4 separate regions of the Homo sapiens genome follow, and regions 2, 3 and 4 are each linked to region 1. The links come from fine-mapping of genetic effects on gene expression. A gene starts in region 1. Each other region holds a variant in brackets. All regions are shown on one strand. Distances are from middle to middle. Region 1 holds the start of SHROOM3 (shroom family member 3). Region 2 overlaps SHROOM3 (shroom family member 3). Region 3 overlaps SHROOM3 (shroom family member 3). Region 4 holds the start of LOC105377290 (a long non-coding RNA gene).

Evidence for each region. PIP is the estimated chance that this variant, and not a neighbour inherited with it, causes the effect. A credible set is the group of variants that fine-mapping cannot tell apart.
Region 2: its variant is the best candidate, but not a certain one, in a credible set for the expression of SHROOM3 in tibial nerve (GTEx, PIP 0.73).
Region 3: its variant is the best candidate, but not a certain one, in a credible set for the expression of SHROOM3 in sun-exposed skin (GTEx, PIP 0.54).
Region 4: its variant is the best candidate, but not a certain one, in a credible set for the expression of SHROOM3 in cerebellum (GTEx, PIP 0.61).

What each region holds. Positions count from the first base shown.
Region 1 is chr4:76,432,799-76,437,952 of GRCh38, forward strand. It overlaps SHROOM3 (shroom family member 3), which reads left to right and starts at 2,431. Exons shown (of 11, transcript NM_020859.4): 1 at 2,431-3,422. The coding sequence starts at 3,255.
Region 2 is chr4:76,721,889-76,727,042 of GRCh38, forward strand. All of the region lies in intron 3 of SHROOM3 (shroom family member 3), which reads left to right. The region is part of intron 2 of SHROOM3-AS1 (SHROOM3 antisense RNA 1); the gene reads right to left. Among named protein-coding and RNA genes, the nearest start is that of SHROOM3-AS1, 78 kb to the right of the region's middle. The variant T/G (reference allele first, on the strand shown) is at 2,169.
Region 3 is chr4:76,620,868-76,626,021 of GRCh38, forward strand. The region is part of intron 2 of SHROOM3 (shroom family member 3); the gene reads left to right. The region is part of intron 3 of LOC105377290 (a long non-coding RNA gene); the gene reads right to left. Among named protein-coding and RNA genes, the nearest start is that of MIR548AH, 48 kb to the left of the region's middle. The variant G/A (reference allele first, on the strand shown) is at 2,986.
Region 4 is chr4:76,642,397-76,647,550 of GRCh38, forward strand. All of the region lies in intron 2 of SHROOM3 (shroom family member 3), which reads left to right. LOC105377290 (a long non-coding RNA gene) reads right to left here and starts at 4,479. Exons shown (of 4, transcript XR_001741404.2): 1 at 2,425-4,479. The variant T/G (reference allele first, on the strand shown) is at 2,400.

The sequences.
Region 1 (5,154 bases):
GGTCACACTTAAGTCTCATGCCCATCCACATATCAATCATTTGAGCCAGGGGTTGGTTGATTCCTGGGTCATTACGTCCACCCTGGAGCCGGGGACAGGGGCAGCCCACCAGCACCACAGGATCGAGGAAGAAGTGGTTCCCTAGAAAGATGATGAATGGGGCATAAAAGAAGTCCTCTATTAGAAAGCCTGAGTCCTATGCTGTTCTCAGTTAGAATCCCAACCTTTCTTTCCACTGTCAGCACCTTGAGACAATAGAGTTGCCTTTCTCTTCTTGGGGAGGAGTCTGATTGCATTCTGTAATTAAGAGTTTGCATCCAAATCACATATCCTAACAGAAGTTCTTCTTACGAATTAGCAGTGCTATGCCAAAAGAAAGTTGTCTTTTCACCGTAAACTATGCAGAACACCTGACTTAAGCTAGGATTTCATTCCTAAACGTCTGAAGATTTAAATTTCATGCCTGCCTGTGTTGCTTGCAGGATTACTCTGGTCAGATCATTTAACCTTCTGGTGGCCTCTGTGTCCTTACCTCTAAAATCAAGGGTGTGGGAGGATTGTCTCTTGCAGCTTTAACATTCTTTGAATCTGATCAACAGAAGATGGAGGAAAAAAGTTCTTCCAAACCTGGTCTATCAACTGCTATAGTGAAGGTCCACAAAATGAAGTTTTACATTTTTTTTTCAGATTACATATCAATTTTGGTTCTATGTTTGTTTCTTCAATATTTTTGGTGATAATCTAAAATGGAGATTTCATCAGTCTGCAAGCACTGGGTTCATATTATCTTTTCCTTATTTCCTTTGCCTTTAGCTTCATTACTTTTTTTGTTTATTATTTTTTAAATTGACAACTAAAAATTATATATACTTATGGTGTACCACATGATGTTTTGATATAAGTATGCATTGTAAAATGGCTAAATCAAGGAATTAACCTATTACCTCACATACTAATTTTTTTTGTGGTGAGAGCACTTAAAATCTAATCTTAGCAATTTCCAAATATACAATACATTGTTATAACTATGGTCATCATGCTGTACAATAGATCTCTTGAGCTTATGCCTCCTAACTGAAATTTTGTATAGCTATGTTACTTTTAATATTAAATGTGGATTCTGTAAAATCCCAGTTTTTACAAAATGTATTAGGAGTAACATAATAAGAGCCTCATAAATTAATTTTTTCAGAAAGAAAGCTGTTCATTTACCTAGGACTTTTATTTAAAATACATATGTTCTTTGAAATGAAAGAAAAGCTAATGTTTCTCCATTTATTCTAACTTACAAATTAAGCTGTAAAAGAAAACCACAATAGAAATTGCGTAAATTACCCTTAAGAATCAGCCAATTTTTACCACATACTTTCATTTGGTACACCTTAGGTTTCCTTATGTTTCCATTCACATACTACCATTACATAAGGTTTTACTTTTTTTTTTTTTTTTTTGTCTTTGAGCCCTTCAAGTGAAGTTACCATTGAAAATCAAACAATACCTGTCCAGTGTTGTAAATTAAATATCGTGTAGTTTGATATCATATACCTGCCTTTCCATATCAGCCTTTCATTAATTATAAGTACAAACACCAAAATAATTGTTATCAAGCCCCACAGTAGTTTTTAACTTCAGTTTTCAACTTAATTCTCATTATCCCATACTTTTAAACAGAAAAAAGTTTTAGTACATATATTACCTGGAAGTAATTCTAATCTGTTCCAATAACTAAATAGCTGAGGCTTCTGGGTTAGATATGGTTATCTTCTACTGTTCAAATTTTTAATACAAAGCATGAATGTTAAATTTGTATATAACATTATTACAAAATGACACTGGTAACATGAAATCAGAACAACATTCTTTCCCGAGTACCTAGTACTTACCCACAAGGCATTGTAGATTTCTTTTCATTTAAAGAGTGGATAACAATCTTGGAGTAGATAACAATGAAAACCTAGAAAAAAAAACCCACCTCCTGTTTTTATTGAGTCAAACAAGCAGAACTTTGATTGGAAAGTCCCATTTCATATATTACACTGGTAGTATTTTCTTCTAACGAAAAAAAAAAAGCCCTTGTGCCACCACCTTGACATGTACTTAAACGTTTACCCAAATCACTTAGGCATTGCTTCTCAAACTTGGCTGCATAGCAGAATTGCCTGGAGGGTTTTTAAAAACACAAATGCCTATGTCTCACTCCCTGAAATTCTCCTTTAATTGGTACGAGGCGGGGCTATTCTAGGAACTATTTTCTATCCCTTGGCAATTAGCCATCTGTATAGTATTTTTAACTTCCTACGTGTTATTAACTGTAAGACTGTTTGAATTGTCAGGTCTTTGTGGTGAGCTGAATTCTGCATGGCAGTGCTTACTGTGCAGAAAGGTTGCAATGCCTCACTTTGCCTTAATCCATGTTCCTCTAACTTCCTTACTCTTTCTCTCAAGAGGAGGCAAGTGGCTGTGGCGGCCGCAGCAGTGGCTGATCATCACTGAAAATACCAAAGAAAAGAACTGAGCTGCCTCCTTCATATTTTTTCCATTGAGGATTAATTTACCGTGCTTTTTCATTTTCTCTACATCCTGCAAAAGTTTTTTTCTCTCCTAAGAAACAAACTATGAACTGATTGTTGAAAAAAAGAAGTAAAAAGTTTTAGCACAGCTTCTCTGTCTCTTCGGGACAAGTTAGAAAATTCTGAAGTGAGCCGAAGCATAGTAAGTGCTTTCTTTCTTTTTAAGCTACTTCTGGGGAGGGAGGAGGCTATTGTAATGGTAAATTTCACTCCGAGAGGAAGAAAGGGTTGATAATCAATCAAAAATGAGGTATTCCTTTGAGTATTTGTGATTTTCTTACTATATTGTAAGATGCTTTTAATTTTCTCTGTAAAATAGGCAGAAATGGTTTTAGTGTGTGTATGTGTGAAATAAAAGCTCAGAAAAGCAATCTTCAGAGCGCCACTGAAGGAAGTTTTGACGAACGGAGTAGAGATGTATACCACTTGGGGGCTTCAGTGAGAACCCAGAATTCCTGGAGGAGGATTTACATTCAGAAATGTTGAAGTGAAAATTCCTTCTGGTTCAGCATCTTGGAGTTCAGCTTGGAAGAACATTTTACGTATGGAAGAATTTGCTTCTCCAAACCTCTCTTTTGGCCATTGTGTGTCCTGAAGGATGGGACAACTTGTGCTGTAGAAGCACTGCTTGCCTGAGTTTGCTTCAGGCATTTTAAATTTAACTTGAGGGATCATGTGTTTGGCATGATGAGGACCACTGAAGACTTCCACAAGCCTAGTGCCACATTAAACTCTAACACGGCCACCAAGGGAAGGTACATTTATCTGGAGGCATTCCTGGAGGGAGGAGCTCCCTGGGGTTTTACTCTAAAGGGTGGCCTGGAGCACGGAGAACCATTAATCATCTCTAAGGTATGTTTCTTTTTCCAATATTGCCTTTATTCAAATTGTTTTTTTCAACTTGTCAGATTTGTCAAAAATGCAAAATAATGAGAACTGCCTTAATATAACTTAATTTGCTGTTTCATGCCTTTCTGATTATCTAGAAATATTTTGGATAGCCTGGGATTTGAAAGAAAAATGTGTCTAGCTCATTTATTCTATGAAATCCGAAGAAAAATATGCCTGTTTGATGGATAATCTTCTCTTTTTGTGAATGAAATCGCATACAATCAGTTACCACATGAGCTTTTCAGTTATAAATCAGATTAAAGATTAATAACATGGTTAAGATGGTGGCATGGTATATATTTGTGCATTCAAAAATATCTGCTTTTTCTCTCTTCAACTGAAAATAGCATCTAAAAATATTTTAAGTTTGCTTATAATTCTGGATAATAGATTGCATAAATACCATGTGTTGCTTTTTTTCCCCACACTCAGAAAGGAGAATTAAATCAGCTTTCAGCATAACTCAAGATCAAAACATTTCTGCCTCTCCTATTTATCTGTATATTTGAATCCCTTTTTAAACCTTAGTCATCCTGCAGCATACCTCAATTCTTCATTTATCTTTTGGTGTGGGTAGTCATACCAATGAAATATTTATGTACTGGGGTTAATATTTCTATTTTTCTCTTAAACTACAGATTAACATTACTTGTTATAATATTGCTTTTAAATTTTTAGAGTATTTAATAGTCTGATACAATAGATTATAATGGCTTTTCACACATGTGCATTCATCAAGAAACATTTGTAATTAAGGGAGAAAAAATTTTTAATTTGAGGGTGGGAAGAAGGTAATATGGATTGCATTTGAGCTCTGTTATTGGTTCAGGTTACTTTTCATATCCCCAGAAATAATTCCAAAAGGTTATTTTTCAAATTACTGAAGTAATTCTTACTGTGGATGAGCCAGGGAGAACTGGGTTTCACAGTGATAAGCCACGAGTGCACGGGACACCATTATAAGTTGTATGACTTTTCCTTAACTTTCTTAAGTAAAACAAAAGGATGTGCATATGTGTGTGTCAGTTAGGAAGGCTTCCCCCTGTGAAAAAAATTCAAAACCGAGTTTATAGTGGCTCTCAGTAAATTGGGGTTTGTTTTTCTCATATTACAAGAAGTTTGGAGGTAGATTTTCCAGGCAAGGGGAGCAGCAGCTCAATAATGTGATCAAGGACCCCACTTATCTCTCCACTCTGCCATTCTTATGATGTTGGCTTTGTCTTCATGGTTGCATGATGGATCCCACAACTCCAGCATTGATTGCATCTTCATTCCAGACAGGTTTTTGGCTTTTTGTTTCTCATTAGACCTTTGCTTTCATCTCATTAACCAGAACTGTACCCTGTGCCTGTCTTTAGGCCAATCACTGGTAAGAAATGCCAGTGATTAATACAGACTGATTAGGATTTCTTTCACAGGTTTCTACAATAAGGACCTACTCTTCCTGAAGTCAAGGAATCATTGCCCACTGTTTGAATGATTTGAGGTTCTTTTTGCAGGAAGAAAGAGGGCATGGTTGCTGAATAACAGATAATTCTGCAATGAACATAAATATTGTCTCGGCATTTAAAAAGTCTAGTTGTACACAATTTGCCTGTCCCTTAATGATAAAATATTCTGTATCTATACACTACAGTATCTGACAGTTTGCTGACAGAAAGGTCTAATCCTCCCACTAATGAGCCAGCTTCTC
Region 2 (5,154 bases), 290 kb after region 1:
AAAATATGAAGACTTTATAAACTTTATAAATTTTGATGATGCATACATGGTTATTTATATTAATCCAGATACATTTATATATGTTTAAAATGTTTCATAAGCAAGGCATAGGGGTACGTGCTATAGTCCTAGCTACTTAGGAGGCTGTGATGGGAGGATTGTTTGAGCCCAGGAGTTCAAGGCTGCAGTACGCTATGATCATGCCACTGCACTCCAGCTTGGGTGACAGAGTGAGACCCTGCCTCAAAAAACGATTTCATAATTTTAAAAATACATGAGGAAAAATGGGGAAAAACAGCAGTGGCATGTAAAAAGAATCTTTAAAAACAATGCTTTACTATTCACAATAGCAAAGACATGGAATCATCCTAAAGGGCCATCAATGACAGATTGGATAAAGAAAATGTGCTACCTATACACCATGGAATACTATGCAGCCGTAAAAAAGAATGAGATAATGTCTTTTGCAGGAACATGGATGGAGCTGGAGGCCATTATCCTTAGCAAACTAACGCAGGAACAGAAGACCAAATTCTGCATGTTCTCATAAGTGGGAGCTAAATGATGAGAACACATGGACATATGGAAGGGAACAACACACACTGGGGCCTACTTGAGGGTGAAGGGTAGGAGGAGAGAGAAGATCAGAAAACATAACTATTGGGTACTAGGCTTAGTGCCTGGGTGATGGAATAATCTATATAACACCCCCAGTCCATGACACAAGCTTACCTATATAACAAACCTGCATGTGTACCCCTAAAATTAAAGTTAAAAAAAAAACCAGTGCTTTATCCCCAGCTAAGCACAGTGTTCAATAAGAATATGATGAAGATCTACAATTCAAATATTTGAAATTTTAATTTAATAGACCTAATTTGCAGAATATATTGATGTATTTTGTTTCTTTTTTGGGGGATATGGGGGTGTTTGATTAGAACTTTCTTATGATGGACTTTGTCTCATAGTATTGCGCACTAAACAATAATGGATGGAGAGGTTGATGGGTTAGTAAGGGGTTTAAGAAATATGGTAACTTTTATTTTGTGGTGCTGGTAGTCTGAGTATATTTTGTATTCTTATACACTTGACTCGGGTCCAGTTGATAACTGGCAGAGTTTTATAACACTGCACCGAGAAGAGCCCATGCAACATGTGTCATAACAGTTCGTTAAAGAATAGCATCAACAAAAAAATTAGTTCTTAGAATTTTTTATTTTCCAACTAATAGTTGTCACTTTCTCCATTTATCCAAAGCATACCAATCTTTCAAGGTCATCTGAAGTCCCACTGTACTACTAAGCCTTCTGGCTGACTTCAGACCCCATTCATGTGAGCTTTTTGTATCCAAAATGCCTCTACAGCCTCGGTGGCCCAATATGATCTGAATTTTATACCATCTGCTCTTCACTCACAAGGCTCTGGCTATACTCTCTTGTATTCTTTAAAAACCCAAACTCATTCCTCCTCTCAAGGATTTTGCATTCATTTTTCCTTTGGAGCTATATATTCTTCTCCTAGCTCTTTGCATGGTTAATTATTTCTTATCATTTAGGTCTTGGTTTGAATGTCACTTGCTCATAGAGGCTGTCTCTGACTTAAATGGGGACTTTCCATCACACTCTCACATTACCCAGTTTTATTTCCTTCAGAACCCTTATAACTATATGAGAATATCTTGTTTGATTTGCTTACTTGCTTACTCCCTGTCTCCCTCCTCTGCCTCTCCCACCTCATTGCACAGTGCTCCTTACTTGCAAATTAAAAGCACAGGCTCTGGAGAGAGATGCCTGGGTTTAGTAGCTGTGCTGCTCACTACATTTGTGACAGTGAACACATTGTTTATTCTGTATTTACCTCACTTTCCTCATTAATAGTCCTGTATCATAAAGGTAATATAAAGGCTAAGTGAGAAAATACTCGTCAAGTGCCTAGAATGGTGGTTGGCACTCAGTAGGCACTCAAATATTTTTTGAGTGAATGAATGATGCTCTGACTTTGTTTAATAGTTTTTCTTGCATCTGAGCCTCCCCAGCAAGATTATAAACTCTTAGGCCTTCCAAGACCTTGCAGAGCTCCAACTATAATTTAACAAGGTTGAAGGCACATAGGTGATTAGTGAATACTGCTTAAAATACTGAACTTACTGTAGATTTCTCAGAAACTTG[T/G]TTTGCATTCCTGAATCTCTCTGTGTTAGGGCAAAATCATCTAAGAAGGACATCATGTCACTTGCGAATTCCAGTTTCATCAGCCTACCCATCCCACGCAGTTAAGCTTCCTTGTTTGTGGTTAGGAATGCAACAAAAGGGCTTTGTTTGAATTACACCCACACACAAAACTTAGTTTGCTAAATTTTAAAATTAAACCATCTTCTGACTTACTGATATGCTCATGATGTGATGTACTTTAGGAAAATATTTCTTTAAGTTCTTAAAGATCAAAGTGATCCCAAAATGTAAAATTAGTATGCCATGCTCTTTAGGAATGCTTATTAAATGTTTCGCATCATTGAGAAAGTCAGCTGTTTAACTGAAAAAATAGCTGTTTAATTTTTTTTTTTTAACTCTCAAGCTACAGTGAATTGTATTTTCAAAATGAAAGACTATTTTAAAAATACTTTGCTTTTCAATAGGTAATACATGCGTATAGTATAAAATTTGAAAAGTTACAAAATGAAATACAGTGAAAATAAGTTTTCCTTCCCAGAGGCAGTCATTGTATCTAGTTTCTTAAGTGTCCTTCCAAAACTACTCTTTACGTTAATATACACACATGTGATTTTCCCCACATACTGTAGCAGACTGTACATGTAATTCTGCATCTTTCCAGTGTAACAATATATTTGGAGATATTTCCATATCAGTATGTATAGAGATACTTCATCCTTTTTAACAGCCATTATATGGATATACCACACTGAGTTAACTAGTCTGCTGCTAATGGGCATTTAGGTTGTCTTCCAATCTTTTGATGGGTATGTTATTTTAAAAATCATTTGCTAGATGTTGTCAAACTGGCCTTCATTCAGGTTGTACTGATATACACTGGTGGGCTATTTTTGGTCATCCTTTTCAATTCTTCGCTTATTTCATCACTTACCTCCTATCTGTACGGTATGGAAGAATCTTATAAAACAAAGATTTATCTCCGAAGCCCTCTCCCAACATATCTTCTGCATCTAAAAGAAAAGTTGTTTTTTGTTTTTTTTTCCTCGTGTTTTTGTTTTTTTCAGGGCCTTTTGATTTGCTTCCCCCTCCCCACCCCCACCGCCAAAATCATCCTGTCATCTTGTTCTTAATCTATTAGAACTGTGATGAAACCTGATACTCTGCCCAGGGCAAATAAATAGTTACCTCTCCAACCTCCTCCAAAGTAAAAGCTCCAAAGTTGAGTTTGCTGTCTTTGTATTGCAGGTATTGGACCTACTTTCTAAAGCACTTATTTTATCTGTACTGTAGGAATTATTTCATTTGCTCTTTCCTGCAGAATGTAAGCTCCTTAAAGGCAGAGACAATATCTTAGTCATTATTTCTTTAAAATATCTCTTTAAAATTTGTTTAATTTTTTATTTTCTTAAATGGACATTTAATTGTACATATTTATGGGGTACATAATGATGTTTCAGTACAAATAATGTATAGTGATGAGATAAGGATAATTAAATATTTTTAAATATCAGTTTCAACTCTTCTAGTCCTCATGTACCACATCCCTGGAGCCCGATCCCGTGTGTCACCTCCCTCACTTCTCCCTCTTCCAGGTTAGGTTCATCATGAAAACAGAGGACATTGGGTACGAGGTCCCCTCAACTTTTCGTGCTACCTACTTGCTTTCACATTTGCCAGCATCCACCTTTCTTCTATCTCAACAGCACTGGCTTTCCTCCTCCATAAGCTCATACCCTTCACCTGAGTGTTTGAATCCCATCCCTTCCTGAGTCTTTAAGGAGTCCTCCTCCTGTGTCCTGTGTCTTCAGATGGGCCTCTGCACGCTCTCTGCCTTATAGACACTTGCTTGAACTTCTCATTTAAAACAAAAACATTAGGAACAAAACCTTTTCACTCCCTGGATCCCTTCAGTCTTCTAGCTACCACCCTCTTCTCCCCTTTAGAAACAGGTTTTTGAAGGAATCATCTGCCCATACTGCCTGTCTTATCCCTTGTTCACCTTTAGCCCCATCCTAAAGCATGCCATTGCAAGGACTTGCTAGTTGCCAAATCCAGTGGCCATGCATCTACCCTCATCACACTAACCTCTTTACAGCATTGCAGTGGTTGACAGTTTCCTCCTCCTCCTCACTCTCCCCACTAGAAATCTGTGAGACTCCCATACTTAACTTGTTTTCCTCCTCCTTCTGTGGAAGCTCCTCTTGGGCTTTTTCCCAGGCTCCCTCTCCCCTAAATTTTGATCATTCTCAGAGACTCATCCTTAAATCATTTCCTTTGTCTCCCTGTTCATTCTCCTCAAGTCACTTATCTTCTCTCAAAGGCCCTGTGTTTTGTGACTTGTAAATTTCTATATGCAGCCCAGCCCTCAGTCCTCTAGTCCTTCTCCACTGAAAGTCCCACAGGCACTCATTCGCATGCCCCAGAATGAGCCATCAGCATCCTGCTTATTTCCTCTTCTCTCTCTCCACTCCCATCCCCTCCATCTAAAAAAAAAAAAAAAAAAAAAATTTAAGAGACTGTCTCTCTGGAAGCTGCAATGCAGTGGCACACAGTCATTGCTCGCTACAGCTTCAAACTCCTGGGTTCAAGTGATTCTCCTGCTTCAGCCTCTGAGTAGTGGGGACTACAGGTGGATGCCACCACACCCAGCTAATTAAAAAAAAAATTGAGCCCCCTGCCTCAGCCTCCCAAGTAACTCAGCTTATAGGCACAAGCAAACTAGAGGGCCTATCTGGAACCCCTGAAGTTATCAGTAAACGTTGTCTCACACCTCATCTCCTTGACAGGAAGACATCTTTTTTCCTGTGGAGCCTGTGGAATTTATCACTTTCTATTTCTCTTGGGTGGGAAAATCTTCTCGGCATCTAGCTAGGCATGGACAGATACTGTTGGGTGATGATGCCACTGAAGAGCCGTCCTTAGTGTCACGTGGTGCTGGTCTGAGGTCACGGTCCATTGGTGTCCATTGGCTTCTCAAGGCCAATAC
Region 3 (5,154 bases), 190 kb after region 1:
AATCATTCAACAGTCACTTCTACCCAGAAGCAGATGAAAGGATGAAGGGGCACTTTTCCCTGGGTCAGCAGAACAGCACCTTATCAGCACCATTATGTGATCTGAAGGGACTAGGATTAAAACCCTTAAGCATCCTGCCCTCCAGGGAAATGTGGAAACCTGAAGCAGCCCCTTATAACAGAAAGACTCTAGAAAAGTAAAGCTGGTTTCAGTGGGATTTCTGTGGTTTTCTCCATTGATTTTTCATTTCCACCTCCAAGAGCCTTTTATTGCCAAGTATTAAAAAAAAAAACAAAAAACTTCCTGTCAGTCAAGGGCAGAGTCTCAGCACTGCAGAGAGCCTCACACTGGGCTAACACCTGTCCCAGGAAGTTACCGAATGACAAGCTAAGGTGATCATCAGACTGTTCCAGAAACCCTATCAGGAGCTGCAGAGTCACCTGGTACATTAGCCCAGCAGGCCCAACATGTCCCTTCAGAGAGGCTGGACTAACGCTGATTAAGAGAAAACACAAACAGTACAAAGAAGGATTGCTAATAGGAATTATTTTACACACCTTTCTAGTTCACAAACCACCACCTTTGCACCAAAGCAAACTTGGGCTATTGAGCCTTGGAGGTTATTTATTTGTATGTGCAGGGCAGTGGTTTGGGTGAAGCTTGATTTTCTCACCATCATTCTTTCTTTTTCCTTCCACCTTAGGGAACAAACAGACCCTCTGTCACATTTTTATAAAGAGTAGTTGTCCTGGTGTTTTCAAAGTTGGGTTGTGCCTCAGAAACAAAACAGAAATTACAAAGAAGTGTGTGAAATGAATCAGTGTGTTAACATCTGAACTAATATGGAGTAAGTGTTTATGCTGCTTGTTTCAGAACTGCATATTCAGCATGAGATACAGGTCCCAGTTGCCTAAATAACATAGTTCCAGCGTTTTCTTTAGGTCTGAGACAGTTTGAATGTTCTTTTTTTTTTTTTTTTTGAGACAGAGTCTCACTCTGTTACCCAGGCTGGAGTGCAATGACACGATCTCCGGCTCACTGCAACCTCCACATCCCGGGTTCAAGCAATTCTCCTGCCTCAGCTTCCCAAGTATCTGGGATTACAGGCACCTGCTACCACGCCTGGCTAATTTTTATATTTTTAGTAGAGTCGGGGTTTCACCATGCTGGGCAGGCTGGTCTTGAACTCCTTACCTCAGGCGATCCACCCACCTCGGCCTCCCAAAGTGCTGGGATTGCGCACGGCTGAATGTTCTTCCATTCTTTATATCCCATTTAGTTTTGGGAAATTGGACGACTAGACCTAGTCGTGCTAGGGGCACTCCTATGCTTGATGTCAGAATTACTCATTTTCCCCTAGGCACTTTTTCTTTGTGAATTTATCTTTAAAGGACAGCCTCATCAGCATGGACTCATCTGGTACAATACTAGTTTGTAGAACCATAGCACTTGTATTCACTCTTACCTTCTTTTCCTGGAACCAAATCTTTTACTTGAATGTCAATAAAATGGCCCTTCTCAGCAACGGAACATTCTTGACTCCTGAGGCAGGGAAGGAAGCCAGGCACTTGTACATTTGTTTTCAAACGAACTGGTTCTTATGTTGTAAATATTTAACCATTCACCATAGTATTCCTACCAAAGTTTCCATTTGATTTTCAGTTAATTCCATTTCTCACAAGCAGATAAAGGCTCTTTCACTTTCCAGAACCCTCTTTTAAGCAAATATAGATTATATTTTTGGCTCAAGAAGGAACAAAAAATGGAATTTGGAAGGCATATTTTTTCCTTGGTTGAAGAAAGGAGGCCACGGGGAAGTAATTCCACCAAGAAAGTATAATGGGTGTTATGGTAAATCTTCATGATGGCCATGAATATTTTTATTGTTCCCTACCCTGTCTTTGCTTAAATTGCTAGAGTTGTGGCTAAAAGCAAAGCTGGGTTTTTTCTTCTCAGGTTTATAGCTTTGAGAGTCGGGAGGGAGGGACATTAAGTGTAAAAGCTACTGAAGAGGGCCAGGTGATCTTATCTCTTTAATGAAAATGACTGCAGACAGCTTCCTTCCAACTTTTGAGTTATCTGGGTTCCTGAGTGTCCATTTCTCACTGGTGTTTGCTCTTAGGATGAAACTTTAGGAATGCATTAGGCAAAAGATTATGATTTACAGCATACCACTGTTTACTGTTTTAGTAATATATTTGTTTTAGGGAAAAGACCTCCTTATAACACATTTCATGCTTTTGATTTAAGTTGTGACTCCTCTTTCAAGTTTGGGATATTTTGCTTCCAGGAGATGCATTTTGGTCTTTTCCTTTTCTTTTCTCTTCCTTTCTTCCTTCTTCCCTATAACAGGTATCTCCTGCTGCACCAAGTCTGTGGGCAACAATGCAAAAAGTCAACCAAAATCCAAAAGTCTAAGCTGATCCCTTAGTATACCAGTTTTAAGAATGTCTGGTGTCACTTGGACTACAAATGACTTTTAAAGTCAAAGACCATAAGCATGAGTCAAATTGGAAACATTACCTTGTAGAGCCAGTCTGTCTGCCTGGTCACTTAACAGTTTATAAAACTTGACTCCTAGCTAGAAAGTTAATTGCCAGAGGTTCCAAGGAAAGCACTGGACTACCACTCGGAATCCTCCATTTACTACATAGGCCAAATGATCTGGCTCTTTTCAAGGAGTTAGCATGAACATTCTACATTTTTCTTATCCAATATGCACAAATATTTCTTTGAAGAAAGATGACATTTTAAAGGTTCTTATTCAATTAAAACTTCCTAAAGCACTTTTTTTCCCCATTAACTGACAAACATGATACAGAACTATTTTCTTTCAAGATTATTATGCCTCTAAATCTTTTTCTGTCTCTTTCCTATTTAGCTTTGGATTTGCACAAAACACCCAAGCATTTTTCAGCAGTGTGAGCTGAGAGTGTGGAATTGAATGAACACGCCTGGGATTTGAAATGAGAGATCTGGGCGGGG[G/A]AAGGGGAGAAAGATATTCCTTGCATACTCATACGCCATAACTGAGGATTCTACATTTTCTTTCTAAAGCATACAGTGGAGATGGTTTATTTCTGAGAGAAATTCTATTTTAGTTTTGTTTTGCTTTTAACCACTATCATGTTTGTATTTGTCATTCTTGTACATGGATTTTAAATTTAGGTTATTTTAATTTTTCTAACCAAATATTTTTCAAATATCCGCTTATGTTGGAGAGAAAAGGACATTCCAAAAGAGTTACCTATAGTGTTTTTAACACATAATTAAAATGATCATAAAACCTTCACATGTGCTTTTTATTTCTCATTAAATGCCAGAGGGAAAGGCAATTGCAGGCGTGTAGTATTCCGACATTTCAGCGTGCTGCACTCCTGTCCTTCCGTCGTCTGGGGCCACATCTGTGATCACTGTCTTGTGCTTGCCAATAGAGGTTTTCTTCTGGATGCTGTGTCTGCTCTTGGTCTTGTGGCTTTAACACCGAAGAGCTGTTGTCTACAAAAGACAGTACATTAGAGCTCCAGAGTTCACTCAGCTGCCTGCTTTGCTCCCGTGGTGACTTCATTCTTGGGAAGTTTTTAGGTTTCCTGGGAGATGAAGCATGAGCAACATTTGCTCCAGCCTGAGTAATTTCAGAAGGCCTTGAGTCCTGTTTTGTTATTCGGGTTTCCAAGGGTGGGTGAGGGGCATGAGAATTCCCAGCAGTTACCACTACACGTGAATACTGGTATCTGGCGACTCTCTGTTACGTTTTTAAAAAGAGTGGTTATCGTGGTGTTTTTAAAGTGGGACTGTGCCTCAGAAGCCAAACAGAAATTATAAAGAGGTGTCTGAAATGAATCAATGTGTTAACATCTGTACTAATATGAGTGTATATGTTGCATATTCCAGAGCTGCCTCAAATTCTTTTAGGATTTAATAATATTGAACATTGGAAAGATTGAATTAAAGCCAGGTAAGACTTGCTATGTTTACAAAATTGTTTGATGTGGTCTACAATGGATTTTAGTATTTTTCTGAGTTAAAAAGAATAATAGCATATGCTTCATAATTTTTGCCTTTATGACCTATTGTTTCTTCATTAACCTCAGTACAATGATATTATATTATTATTGGAATTGAAAAGGTTCCTGTGTAAGCCTTGCTTGGTAATTCAAGTACCCTTGAATTGTATAAGGAGAGCGCAGATATTTTAATGCCAGACTCCTAGTTTATGCAGTACTTTTGGGCTGTAGTTCCCATGTTAAATGAGATGATCAGCCAAATCTTTGCTTTGCCAGGAACCAAAATCATTTCCAAACTACAATAGCAGTATGGTTACAGTTTCAGCTTCATCAGCCCCAAAGTAAATTCTAATAGGTGCTATTGAACATAGTTTAAAATATCCTGGTGAGAAACTATAGGCCTTAAATATTCTGTTTTCAAATTTTTTACCTAACCCCAAATAGCTAGCTTCTTAGTTTTATACAGCTATGCCAAAATAAAATACAACAGAACATTCTTCTTTTGGGGATATGAAACAAATCTTTTCATTTTCAACAGTGATAACCAATCTTCTGTCTCCCTCCCTCTCCCTCAACCCCTCACTTCCCTCCCTCTCCTTCTCCCTCTTTAGTCCCTCCTCCCACCCAGCCTCTCCCTCTGTCTGTCTTTTCTTGCATTACCTAAAGCCCTCATTGCTCACATCTCATCAAGATAAAGTCAAGATTTACACACAATATAGGAAGTGTTTCTCTCCAGCCTCATACCTGACCACAGCATCCTTCCTTTCCTACTTCACACTCCAATCGCCGAGAACCATGTCCAGTTCCTGAGCATACCATACTTTCTGCCTCTTCCTATGTGTTACTTCTCTAACTAGAAGGCTTATCCTCCCCTCTCTAAAGGCTGGCAAATATTCTCATGACATCATGTCTTTGTCTACCCCTATAACTAACCATATTGTATTTAAACTTCTCTCTTCCTTTTTAGACTCTAAGCAACTTGTGAGCAAGGACTGTTTCCATCTCGCTCACTATTATACTTAGAGCCTAGCACAGTGCCTGGCATACAGTAGCTATACAGCACATATTTGTTGAAGGCTCAATTGAGTCTAGTTGTCACTCAGTTTGCTTTAAACATAGAGAACTCTCCTTAACTTTTCGTTTATTGTTG
Region 4 (5,154 bases), 210 kb after region 1:
CAAAATAGACGTGATTGGATTTGAATGGTTGACAGCTTTCTTGAATATGCAGTATGACGCCACTGGGATTTTGAGATGATGGGATTAAGCAGGTTGGGAGGAGGCCAGTCACTGGAGGCAAAGGCTCAGGATTAGGAATGCTCTTGTGGTTCTTGGGGAATAGTGAATGGACCATAGTGGCAGGATGAGGCCAATGTGTGAAGGGACAAACAAAGTTGTTTGAAATTTAAACTTTTGGCAATGGGAAACCACTGAAGCCATTTAAGCCGAACTGTAAAGAGATAAAAGGAAAATTCAAAAGAACTGAATCTAGGTAATAGGTTAGAGCATGAGGTGCCAGGAACAAGGGCTCTATGAAGGAATGGAAGCCAATACCCATGAGTGTGTGACAAAATGCTGATCTGGGTGGGGGAGGAGGGTAGTGGGAATAAATGTTAGGATTCTGGAGTATTTGTGGGGGAGGGGAGATTTGAGATTAATGTATCATTTGTATCCAGAGTTTTCTCTCTAAATGAGGTTAAAAGAATGGGCCAGGAGCAATGGCTCATGCCTGTAATCCCAGCACTTTGGGAGGCCGAGGCGGGCAGATCACCTGAGGTAGGGAGTTCAAGACCAGCCTGACCAACATGAAGAAACCCCCATCTCTATTAGAAATACAAAAGTAGCCGGCCGTAGTGGTGCATGCCTTTAATCCCAGCTACTCGGGATTACAGTAGCTGAGGCAGGAGAATTGCTTGAACCTGGGAGATGGAGCTTGTGGTGAGCCGAAATTGCACCATTGTACTCCATCGTGCCATTTTTTGAGATGCTGTCTCAAAAAAAAAAAAAAAAAAAGAATGATGGCTAAACTCTTTATTAGGTGTTTGTTAAATGCCAGTCACTGTTCTAGGCATTTTACAAACAGTAGCTCAATTCATCCTCAGAACACCCCTTTGTAGTATTATTATTGGCCCCACTTGACAGATAAACTGAGGCACAGAGCAATTAAAGCACTTGCCCAAGGTCATACAGTTATAAGACAGAGAGACAGGATTCAGACCAGGATGTAAGTCTGCCAAGGCCCAAATATTAACCACAAATGCCTGCTTCAGCAGGTTCATGGGAAGATTTAAGGTATGATGAAAGGGGTTCTAAACAGTGATGTTTGTTATCATTTTGAAAGGAGACCAGAGAAGCATTTCCTGCATCCATTTTCCTATCATCGTTAATTGCCTACTCACACACAGTTTAAGGTTATCAGTATATAGTAAAATTTAAAATCTGTAATAGGATAATGTTTCTTATTTTGCCTTTTAAACACTGATTTTTCTCATTTAAAAATTAGTATTTGTTATAAAAATTCAAATCTTACAGAAATAACAGATATACAGTGAATATCCCATGAAATCTTAATTATCCTCCTACCCCCAAATCATTATTTACTGTTGGGTAGAAATTCCTCCAGCTCTTTTCTTTTTTTTAATCTGAGACGGAGTTTTGCTCTTGTTGCCCAGGCTGGAGCGTAATGGCACGTTCTCAGCTCACTGCAACCTCGATTTCCTGGGTTCAAGCCATTCTCCTGCCTCGGCCTCCAAAGTAGCTGGTATTACAGGCATGTGCCACCACGCCTGGCTAATTTTGTATTTTTAGTAGAGACAGGGTTTCACCATGTTGGTCAGGCTGGTCTCAAACTCCTGACCTCAGGTGATCTGCCCTCCTCGGCCTCCCAAAGTGCTGGGATTATAGGCATGAGCCACCACACCCAGCCCACCTCTTTTCTTTTATATATATAGGCTGCTGTATTACCATCATTTATGTCAATAGTAATCCTTTTTTCCAAAAGGTGATCATACTGTTTTGTAACATGCTTTTTCTTTTTCTTTTTTTTTTTTTTGGCAGAGTTTTTGCTCTTGTTGCCCAGGCTGGAGTGCAATGGCATCATCTCAGCTTACCACAACCTCTCTCCCGGATTCAAGCAATTCTCCTGCCTCAGCCTCCCGAGTAGCTGGGATAACAGGCATGCGCCACCATGTCTGGCTAATTTTTTGTATTTTTAGTAGAGATAGGGTTTCTCTATGTTGGTCAGGCTGTTCTCGAACTCCTGACCTCAGGTGATCCGCCCACCTCGGCCTACCGTAACAAGCTTTTTAATTTAATAAATAGGACAGCTTTCCATGTCAGGACATACGGGGTTTTTTTTTTTTAACTTTTATTTTTAATTGAAACATAATAATTACATATATTTAAGGGATACAATGTGATGATTTGATACATGTATACATTGTGTAATAATCAAATCAGGGTAATTAGCAAGGATATACACTTTTATATTATTTCCTTTAAAAGTTATATAGGATTCACTTTCACTTTCAGCATCATTTCATCTGGATTCACGTTCTTTTGCAATTACCAGAGCAACA[T/G]ATCTGATGTGACCTAGATTCTTACCTCAATGCCATTTTTGTTCCTTTTGTGTCTTGGACAGGACTTAAGGAGAAGCAAGTTCAAATGGGGTTCAGTTTTCTGTTTCTGTGAAAACAAGAAAAGCTAGTACTTATGTAGTACTTATGTAGCACTTATGAGCCAGCAACTATTCCTAGCTCCATTGTACAGATAAGGAGACTGAGGCCTAGAGAGATTAAGTAATTTACTTGCTCAAGGTCATACAGTTAGAAAGTCAGAACTTGAACCCTGGCTCTTTGACTCCAAAGCCTGTATATTTACACCACACTGTCTCTTTATCTCTTTTACAAGTCTTTTACCTAAACTAATTAATATGAAGTGGCTTCCATAGCATTATGCAGTCAACCATGGTGTAAAAGTCAATAAAGATAAGCCCTACCACTTATCTCTGTGGCTCAACTAGCAGCAGAAAGCAGGGAGTTGTCTGAAGGAGCAGCTTCATTTCGGCTGTTTCTCTCTCCAGCCTCTCCCCACCGGTCACTGTTAGCCTCGAGTTTGACCCTCAACATCCCCAGAGGATGCCTCCTAGGACTCGAACCTCATTTAGTGTCTCTACTGCTGATGGACGCCATGAGTGGAGCTGTCGACCACCTTGGGTGAAGTGGTGGTCTCCACGTCCCACCTGGGCAGCACGATGGCCACAGAAAGGTTGTATCTACCCCACCCAGCACAACACATGCAGAAATTTCAAAAGAGCCTATTTAAGTAGATGAGCATAGATAGATAATTCTGGGAGAACATCCTTAAAAGGAGTTTGGTTTTTTGTTTGCTTTGTGTGGGTTTTTGTCTAAATAAACTAGACTGCTTTAATATACTGCCTCTTTTAATGAAATAAAGTAATTGTTTCCTTAGCTGTGTGCTAGGAAAGCCAATACAAAGACATATAAGAAAAACCCCACAGACCTAGATTCTTAAAACCATTCATATTTGATCCCATTCTCAAGATATCTCATTATATACATGCAAATAGTCCAAAATCTGGAAAAATCCCAAATCCAAAACACTTCTTCTTCCAAGAATTTCAGATAAGGGTTACTTAGCCTGCCTCATACTCCCCAAAATAGGCATCTTCATAGAACTTCAGGGTGAGAAGGGGACCGAAGATTTAAGAAGTTCCATTTCTTCTCTGATACATTTTCCAACAGTCCCCCAAAGTGGGCAACTAGCTTCCATCTGAACACAGTCAAGGAAAGTGAACTCACTAAGTAGGAAAGCAGACTATTTCATTTTCAGAACCCGTTGAGGGAGGGGGAAGGGATAGCATTAGGAGATATACCTAATGTAAACGATGAGTTAACGGGTGCAGCACACCAACATGGCACATGTATACATATGTAACAAACCTGCATGTTGTGCACATGTACCCTAGAACTTAAAGTATAATAAATAAATATATATATATATATATATATAAAATTAAAAAAAAGAACCTGTTGAATTGCAACAGTGTTCTTCTTTATGGTAACTCCATATCTGCTGTCCCAAAACTTCAATTCTTTCATCCTTCTTAGACCAAACAGAAAACATCGAATAGTTTTTATACTTTACCACCTTCCAATCTTTAAGAATAGTCACCATTTCCTTGCCAAATTGTTTCTTTTCCAGGTTAAGGTCTTTAATTCAATCTTCACCTATTATTCCCATGTCATGATCTAGCATTTTGGACTGTTAAGGTCCCTCTTCTTTGATATGCCCTAAATTGTCCATGTTGCTCTCAGACTGTGACATTTATCACATAACACGGTACTTCAGGGAAGACTAGATAAGGACAGCCACTTACCTTGCTCTTGATGGTCTACTTCTATTAGATGTGCTAAGCTTAAGATTTCATCCAATTCTTTAAAAGCAGGGGAAATTAAGGAACTTTATTCTGGAAAGTTTGTAAAGAAATCAACCAGTCATGGAATGGCAATTATGAAAAGCACAAAAAATAACACATGTTGGTAAGTATGCAGAGAAAAGGCAACTCTTATACACTGTTGGTGGGAGCGTAAATTAGTCCAGCCACTGTGGAAAATAGTATGGCAATTTCTCGAAAAACTGAAAATAGAACTACCCTTTGAGCCAGCAATCCCACTACTGGGTATCTATCCAAAGGAAAAGAAATCAGTATATCAAAGGGATACCTGCACTCACATTTTGAGCGCTATTCACAATAGCAAGATATGGAATCCTAAGTGTTCATCAGCGGGCAAAAGGATAAAGAAAATGTATATACACATAGTGGAATACTATTTGGCCATAAAAAAGAATGAAATCATGTCATTTGCAGCAACATGGGTGGAACTAGAGGTTCTTAACGTTAAGTGAAATAAGCCAGGTAGAGAAAGACAAATATCATCGTATGTTTTCACTCATATGTGGGGGCTAAAAAAGTTGATCCCAGGGAGGTAGAGAGTCGAGTGTTAGATATTAAAGGCTGGGAAGGGTAAGTGGGTGAGTGGTGGTGATGAAGAGATGTTGGTTAATGGGTACAAACTTACAGTTAAAGGAATACGCTCTAATGTTCGACAGCAGAGTGGGGTGACTATAGTTCAAAACAATGTATTGTGTATTTCACAGTAGCTAGAAAAGAGACTTGAAAAACTCCCAACACGTAGAAATGATGAATACTCCAGGTGATAGATACCGTAAATACTCCAACTTAATCATTACACATTCTATGCATGTAACAAAATATCACATGTATCCCATAACTATGTACATATATTATGT